2 separate regions of the Homo sapiens genome follow, and region 1 is linked to region 2. The links come from fine-mapping of genetic effects on gene expression. A gene starts in region 2. The other region holds a variant in brackets. All regions are shown on one strand. Distances are from middle to middle.

Region 1 (4,395 bases), 27 kb before region 2:
GCCGGCAGTGACTTCTTCAAAATCAGTTCCGGCAGCGCTGAGTGTCCATGGAAAAGAGCTCTTATTCAGAGCAGCCCTTCCTGTGTGCAGAGCTACGCAAGTAATTAAATCACTTCAGCAACAAGATCAAGGGGACGGATAAGTGTTAGAGACTGTGTTTCAGTCCTGACTGCCTCTTATGCATGACCTCAGGAATGCCACTTCACCTCTCTGAGTCTGGTTTCCTCACCTATAAAAGTGAAGGACAGTTCTGACTCCACAGGGTGCTGTGTGAGGGTTACGTGAAGTCGAGGGTTACATGAAGCCTTTGCATAATACCTGGCACAACGTCAGTCTTCCGGGAGTGGTAGGACTAGTCTGCATTCTTGGTTTGCAGATTAGATGAGGAAACCCAGGCCCAAAGAAGCAAACAAACAATAGCTCACCCAGTCTTCTCTGTTTATTCTTCTCAACTACACCATGCTGCTTTGCAGGTTGGTTTGACAAACATTTCCCCACAATTAGATGCATGATGACCAAGGGAGGAAAGAAAATTTTCACAGGGTATTTAAAAAGCTCAGGGAACAAACAGATCAGTGCAAATCAGTAAGGCTAACACCTGAAAATGACTCTGCACAGGTGAGGAAGTGGAGCAGAAGAGGGAGGGGCTGGTTCAGGGAACAGGATTTAATATGTCAGTGAAGACCCTGCCTCTCTCTGTAACAAGATGCCTAAAGAAGAATAGTGGTGCTTCCAGCCCAGCTCCCTCTTGTTTTGGGAACAACAGTCATTTCTCAGAAACCTCACTTGCAAAGGCAGCCCTTCCAAAAACATGAGAGCTTTAGTTTGGAGAAATTATTTAAGCTCACTTTTGCTGGAGAGGAAATGAATTTAAACTAGGACACACAGAGAAGCAACAAAGAGTGTTAAAGAAGCAACTGAAAAGGTAGTCAAAGATCTGGCTTAAGGATTAGAAGCACTGGCTTTCTAGACTATGGACAAGTGTCCATTCAACAGTTATCCAGCCTGGCAGGAAGCAGATATCTTTCTGTGTATATCTGGATCCAACTAACATTTATCCAATGTCTGTTGCATGCCAGGTACTGAGCAAAAACCTTCTTCCTATAAATTTCATTTAATGCCATTAAGGCCAAGAAGGTGGCATAACCAACTTCCTTTTTCAGCTGAGGAAACAGGAGCACAGTGAATAACTAACTGGCTGGGATTTGTCCTAGGTCCCCTGAACTCCAAGCACAGTGCTATCTCCACTAGACCAAGCTGCCTTGTCTCTGGGCTCAAGAGAAGCCTGCATAGGAGCTGAAGGTCAAGAGGTTGCAGGCTTATCTCATATGCACATACTTGGACCTCCCTACCACACAGCTGCCAGCGACAAGAAAGGGCTTCTTTTCCTTCCAGCCAGGTCCAGAATTCAATGTCATTTTTCTAGCTTAGATTATCTAAAAAAAATGCCACAACAGGGGATACAAATTTTAACATATTTTATTGATTTAGGGGCCAAACAAGGCAGCATTTGGTCAGTTAAGAAAGGCACCTCATTGAAAATAATACATCACAGTGCTGTTGAGTGATCCCAGTCACAGGATTTGAGAATGGAAAGGACAATCTTTGGATGACATAGCTTAGGACACTTGCTCATTTATTTAAAAGAGTCCCTTCACACAGTGCAGATAAAAGAAGGCAAGAGCATAGGATTGTGGCATGTGCTGGGTAGCTGTGAGAGGTTACTCATGAAAGTAGGTAGCCTAGTAAATTAGTGGTAAGTCAGGGGAAGGGAATCAGCCTCCCTTTCCATTTCATTCCCTTCCCCCTCCCCTTGATTCCAGTTTGCTTGATTTGTTGAGCCACCATCCCTATGAATACACCTTACATCTCTTTCAAATGTGGAGATGGTTTTTTGATCTTACAGTGTGTGGAACCGGAGTCAGTAATCAAAGCTCCCTGTTCCAAGCTATAGACAGACAGGACAACAATTTGATTTCCTGTACTCTTGGTCTGGAACCCATGGGGTTCTGAGATAAAAGCTGAGGTCTTAGAGCACTGGCTTTAAAAAATATTTTCACCAGTCCAGAGTAAATGAAAACCCGATTCCTTAGAAATAATATTGTGTCTATTTCTACCCCCACCCTCCAAGCATGGTGTTTTTTAAAAAATTAATTTTTCCCTTACACTTTAAAAACTCTCACCTATGTATAAAAGAAACTGCCACACTACAATAACACTGCTGTTGTTCCAAGTATTCCTCTGAGCCCCTCACCAGCCCTCCCTCACCATCCTCACCCTGACCACCCTTCCCCTCTGCCCAGCACCTAAGAGCAGGGATCACGCCGCGGGGTGATGAGCAGT[G/A]TTGCAGTCTCGCCTGGCCTTCTGATACTAGGCTGAAATAGAGAGGAAACAAGAGAGAACAAAATGGGTTTTTAAAAACCAAGTACATATCAGAGGAGGCTGGCATGTAAGCCCCAGCAACCAAATGCATTAAACACTGGACATTTCTGTGACAGGTAAAAGCAGAACCTGCTGAGGCTGAGGAACTCTGGAATTAAATGAAGCAAAAACAGAATCCTAACCATACTGAGAAGGGTATATGCATTCCCTATGAATCTTCCAGTTCTTATGGGCAGCCCAAATATTACTTGTACATGTTGTATGCACACGTGAATCTATGTGGACGGATGACAAATATTTGGGCAAGGATCATGCACATAAAATTAGCAAACATTCAAGAACCTCAACTTTGAGGCCAAGTGCTTACAATTGTCCCTAGTTAAAGGGGAGCTGATTCTAAGATTCATGATGCCACTGTCACCCAGAGAAGGATCCCAGACCAGGCACACATAGCTGACAGTTTTTGTTTCACTCCTCTTCCTTGCCCATTCCCAGAAGTCATGTGCTTCCCAGAAACACACAAAGCCAGACTGAGTTTCCATTAAGAGTGGGTGGAGTTGGTTTAGAGCCAGGAAAACAAGGCAGGACAGAGGCAGCAGACACTCACTTGGACCAGGCAAAGAGGGAAGCAAGGTGGCCAGGTACTCATGCCCAGTTGCCATGTGGACAGCAGATAAGACCTCTGGTAGTCTCACAGATGGCAGGAGAGCTCAGGTCAGGAGGCTGGGCACTTTAGAGTCCACTGAATCGAGTCAGCAGCAGATTATGCTGAGGCTGGCGATATTATTTACTGGATCTGCCACTGACTTTCTAATGGTTTTTCCAGAGGCTGCCGTTTTTGTGGTCCTTCATAGCAGTCTGTTACTTCATCTGTTTGCCACAAATCAAACCAGAGACCAAAAGACAGCAGGGACCTTAGAAAATGCTCAATAGTTGGGAAGCTAAGGTTATGAATAAAAGCTGGTAACTGTCACAGGTGGTCTTATTTCTGGGTGATCTTTTCTTGGGGAAGTCCATGGCTATAGCCATCATAAAATTAGGGGTGAAGGGTTGGATCTAGAAAGGAGAGGGTTTGGGCTTAAAAAGAACATATCTGATTTCAGTTTTATGTCCTGGAGAGAGACTGGGTTTGAATAAATACTGATCAAAATGAATCCAAGAATAGATCACACACTGTTTTGTTCACACTTGGAAACACAGGCAAACATTAAAAATAAAAGCAAATAAACCTACCCTGGTCTCTTTTTGGGGAAGTAGATTTGACTGCTCTCAGATGATCAGCCTGGATGTTCAGAAGACAATCTGAATTCAAAAGGACCTTTCACCTGGTTTAATTCTCTGGCAACAATTCAGTTTTCAAACCCAATTCCCAAATAATTGCTATTTTCAGCATCATGATGCAGATCACAAAAATATTCCAATTTGGCCTGGCTCTTTTTATGACGATATCCTCTCCCAGTAATTTCTGTAACCTGCAAAGTAAGTGCCTTTTTCCTTCCACCTAGGGGGAAAAAATTAATGATCCCTGTTCACACACTGACTCACGTGGGTTTTCATCATGGGTTAGAAAACAAAATGGAATTCTCTGTCCATAATGTGCCATCAGGAACTGTGACCCTGCCTGACTTCACATGATCCTGGACTTCTAATCAGCTGCTGGAAATGGAAGAAATACTATGAGGTTCTGGAATTGCGGTCCCTGGAAGATTACCTGGGTTAGTTCATTTTGGTCAAAAAATAAAATCAAAAGTATGGTTAAAGAAGTAAACAGCTGGGCTGGGTGTAGTGGCTCACGTCTGTGATCCTGGCACTTCAGGAGGCCAAGGTGGGTGGATTGCTTAAGCCTAGGAGTTCAAGACCAGCCTGGGCAACTTGGCAAAATCCTGTCTCTACAAAAAATACAAATATCAGCCAGGTGTTGTGGCATGCACCTGTAGTCCCAGCTGCTCAGGAGGCTGAGGTGGGATAATTGCTTGAGCCCCAGGAGGCAGAGGTTGCCGTGAGCCAAGATCA
Region 2 (4,395 bases):
GAGATGTCAACAACGCTGAGGATAAAGGATAAAGGGATCAGGTACAGGTAAGCTCCAAAGAAGAATCATCTCAGTCTGTGGAGAGAAAAGAAAGCTGTATTTTCTGACTTAGTGCCCAGGTCACAGGAATGAATGGAGTGTTCCAGAACTTCTTTCTTTATCACCCACATTAATCTGTGACATTCATCCACTTCCACTAACCCCATCAAGGGCCAAGTAATGTGCTAGGTGCCACAAGGGGTACCAAGAATGAGTAAGATGGTCTGTTTGCCAAGATTTTTAAAACTTGGCAAGTGCTAGGAAGAGAAAAGCGGGCACAGGGCAGTCCTCAGATTCCCTTTCATTTGGGAGCTCAGACTTCCCTCTTTGAAGCCTAACAACAGGCAAGAGCCAGAGGCTTAGGGCCCCAGGTGCAATGCCAGACCCCAAGCAAGAAGGGGACATCAATAATCCAACCTGCGGGCTTCCAAATCCGAAATGAGATCATCGATCCCAACCCTAATCTATGGCCCCATTATGTCCCAGATCTAGAAGGGGCCCAGATCCCAAGTGAGGCCCCTGTTGCCTGCTAGGGCAGATGGTAACTTCAGACTCTAACTCCATGGTTCCTGAGGTCTCAGGCTCATGAAACTCATTTCACTAATTTGGGAAAGCCACCTGACCTTTCTGGGCCTGTTTTTTAACCTGTTGATTGATAAAGTTAAAATTTCAAGTTCCCTATAAACAACAACAAAATAAAAAAAGGAAAAAATAAATAAAAACCAAAGGGAAGGAAGATACAAACAAACAAAAATAATAAAAACAAAATAAAAAAAAATTCAAGTTCCTTTTCATCTAAAATCATTTGCGTCATCCCAAGCTGCTTAGCCTTCAGTAGCCTCAGGTCCTAACTCCAAGCCAGGTCCCATGAGCACTCCCAACCCTTATTGTGGACACTACTCAAAGGTTGCGACTCATGGGTCTCCAGGCTATAAACCAGTTCTACACATTCACCCCCAACTTTCAAACAGGGAGAGCCTTAGGTTTCCTCCCATCTCAATTCAACTGGCTCACACAGCACATGTCACCTCTCACTCTGCCCCACGTGTTGGAGATGCTTCTCCTCCCCTCCCCCTAAGTCATAAATCATTATCAAAATCTCCCGACCTCCAGTGCCTGGAATGTAACCCTGATTCTGGACAATTCACCTCCAACTCGCAGGTAACCTGGGCCATAAAGCTAATTGCCTCCATTCAGCCTGTAATCTAGATGCCTCGGCCCAGGGCTCACTCTACCCCTCAAACCTTTCCAGTCTCTAGACCCTTAGTGGAATTAATCAGCCCTCACATTCCCTAACCCAACACTTCAACACTGAATCCCTCGGGCACTCCAATCCTAACTCAGACTGCCCCGACCTCCAATTTGGACCCTCTCCGAAATGCCCCACCAGAACCGAGACCCCGGCCAGCGTTCCCCGCAGGCCTTAGTCCCCGGCCCGCTCCGGGCAGGTCCAGGGCTTCTAGATCTCCGGCCGCCTTGACCTTGGAGTTCAGCAGGCTCCGCCGCCAAGCCCAGTCCTGCCGCTCACCTGGGTCCCTTTACCGGCCCCGGGAGGCCCCAGCAGCACGGCCCGGATGCCTTTAGGATACTCGGGTTCTGCCGCTGGCACGCTGGGAGCCATGTCCGCCGAAGTCTCTCACTGCCACCAGTTCGCACGCCTCACAGGTCCAGTGCTTCCCAGGTCAACGCACGCACGCCACGCACGTCCCACTCGCCGCTCACACTGGCCCATAGCCGCGTCCGTCAGCCCGTTCCGCCCGCCCCTGAGCACGACGGACTCTTCACCTTACCAACTGCACGGCGATACTGAGGAACTTTGCTTTTGATTGGACAGAATTGGTGCGGGATAAGGAAGGGGCGGGCCAGCATGTACTAAGGGTGGCGGGTGTGCGGAGTGGGCGGGAAAACGCGAAGGAGGACAGGAGGTCAGGCCGGAAGGTATACTTCGGCATTTGACAGTTGACGACACCAGCAACAACATTGAAATCCTATTAAATTGCGCGTGGGAGTTTAAATGGGTAAAATCACTCTTAGAAGACAAATTAGTAATATGTTTCAAATACCCTTTGGTCCAGCAATTCCACTTCCACGAATTCAATGGATAAAATCAAGGATATGAGTAAAGATTCGTGTAACAAAGTTGTTAATTGCAACACTTAGCCCAAAAGCCCGAGAAAAACCATAAAATAAAGGCAATACTCCAAATGTCCAACAATAAGAGATTGGTTAAATAAATTGCAACCAATTTGTATCCTGGAATACCCCTGTTGTATAAGATAATTTAATCATGCGGGAAAATGTTAGCAAAGCGAGATACAAAATTGCAGTTACAACAAAATCCGAATTTTGGCCGGACGCGGTGGCTCACGCCTGTAATCCCCACACTTTGGGAGACCATGGCGAGCGGATTACCTGAGGTCAGAAGTTCGAGACCAGCCTGACCAACATGATGAAACCCCATCTCTACTGAAAATACAAAATTAGCTGGGAGTGGTGGCATATGCCTGTAATCCCAGCTACTTGGGAGGCTGAGGCAGGAGAACTGCTTGAACCCAGGAGGCGGAGGTTACAGTGAGCCAAGATTGAGCCATTACACTCCAGCCTGGGCAACAAGAGTGAAACTCCGTCCCACTCCCCCCCCAAAAAATCCCGATTTTGTTTATTACAAGTGTAGACCGCTGTGTAGTGTGATTAGAGGAGCACCTCTCCTTTGTATATTTTAATAGATTTTTTAAAGTTCTATGGTAAATTCTTAATAAGTTTAAAAACTTAAGTTTAAAACAAGTTTTACCTTTATATTAAGAAAAACGTTAACCTTTTAAAGTCAGGAAAAGATAGTTTTTCTCAAAAGAGATGACCCTCTTGGATAGGGAAATAATTTCTACAGCTTTTTGGTGTGTGAAAGTTTCATCCAGCTCCAAGGGCCTCTTTGGACCTTTAGTTAAGAGTGTGTAATGAAACGATTATGTTTCCCCACAGGCTCCTAACAACTCATTTTCTACATCTTGATGATGAATTTGCTATCCCTTCAGCTGTGGTCTCTTCTTTTTTTTTTTTTTTTTGAGACGTGGTCTCGCTCTGTTGCCCAGGCTGGAGTGCAGTGGCGCGATCTCGGCTCACTGCAAGCTCCACCTCCTGGGTTCACGCCATTCTCCTGCCTCAGCCTCCTGCGTAGCTGGGACTATAGGTGCCCACCACCACGCCTGGCTAATTTTTTTTATACTTTTAGTAGACACGGGATTTCACCGTGTTAGTCAGGATGGTCTTGATCTCCTGACCTCGTGATCCGCGCGCCTGGGCCTCCCAAAGTGCTGGGATTACAGGCGTGAGCCACTGTGCCCAGCCCAGCTGTGGTCTCTTCCTTACCACACAGAAGTCAACATTCATTTCTCATCGCCACGCTGGACTTTTACAGTGTACCTGCTTAATCTTGTTGGATACTCCCAATGACATTGAAGGAAGAAAGGATTGTTATGTCTATTATTCAGAATGGAAGCTGAGGCCTGAAGATACGTAGTGACCAAAGTCACACAGTAGCAGACTCACAATTAAGACTGAGGATGAGCCAGGTCCAGTGACTCACGCCTGTAATCCCAGCACTTTGAGAGCCTGAGGGGGGGGCAGATCACCTGAGGTCAGGAGTTCGAGACCAGCCTGGCCAACATGGCGAAACCCCGTCTCTACTAAAATTACAAAAAAATTAGCCCAGTGTGGTGGCGCATGCCTGTAATCCCAGCTATTAGGGAGGCTGAGGCAGGAGTATCGCTTGAACCCGGGAGGTGGAGGTTGCAGTGAGCTGAGATGGCACCACTACACTCCAGGCTGGGTGACAGAGCAAGACTCTGAAAACAAAAACAAAAACAACTGAGGATGACAAGCAGGTGCCCTAGAGATTACAGGGCTTATGGGCAGAGGGATGGGAAAACAAGCTGCAGGAAGCCTCTCTGTGGCCAAAATTCACTTCAGTCCAATAAGACCAGAGTTTATTGAAATTTTCTATGCACAGGGACCAGGCAAGGGGAGTAGGAGCAGCCTTCCCTTTCTACCATCAATCCCTATAGTGATTGTGACAAGACTTAGGGCTCCCAGGAGGGAAAGTAAGGAAGACTATCCATAAAGACACAAAGTGTAAGATTTATTCAATACACTTTGAAGTGTAATGAATCACAAGTTAAGTCTTTTTTTTTTCTTTTTTGAGAAGGAGCCGCACTCTGTCACCCAGGCTGGAGTGCAGTGGTGCAATCTCTGCTCACTGCAACCTCCGCCTCCTGGGTTCAAGAGATTCTCCTGCCTCAGCCTCGTGAATAGCTGGGATTACAGGCGCCCCTACCACCCCCGGCTAACTTTTGTATTTTC

Evidence for each region.
Region 1: its variant is fine-mapped to the expression of AK2 in whole blood (INTERVAL, PIP above 0.99).

The regions. Positions count from the first base shown.
Region 1 is chr1:33,008,459-33,012,853 of GRCh38, forward strand. It overlaps AK2 (adenylate kinase 2), which reads right to left. Exons shown (of 6, transcript NM_001625.4): 6 at 1-4,395. Among named protein-coding and RNA genes, the nearest start is that of AK2, 26 kb to the right of the region's middle. The variant G/A (reference allele first, on the strand shown) is at 2,344.
Region 2 is chr1:33,035,169-33,039,563 of GRCh38, forward strand. AK2 (adenylate kinase 2) reads right to left here and starts at 1,715. Exons shown (of 6, transcript NM_001625.4): 1 at 1,568-1,715. The coding sequence starts at 1,660. RefSeq lists an enhancer at 1,534-1,693.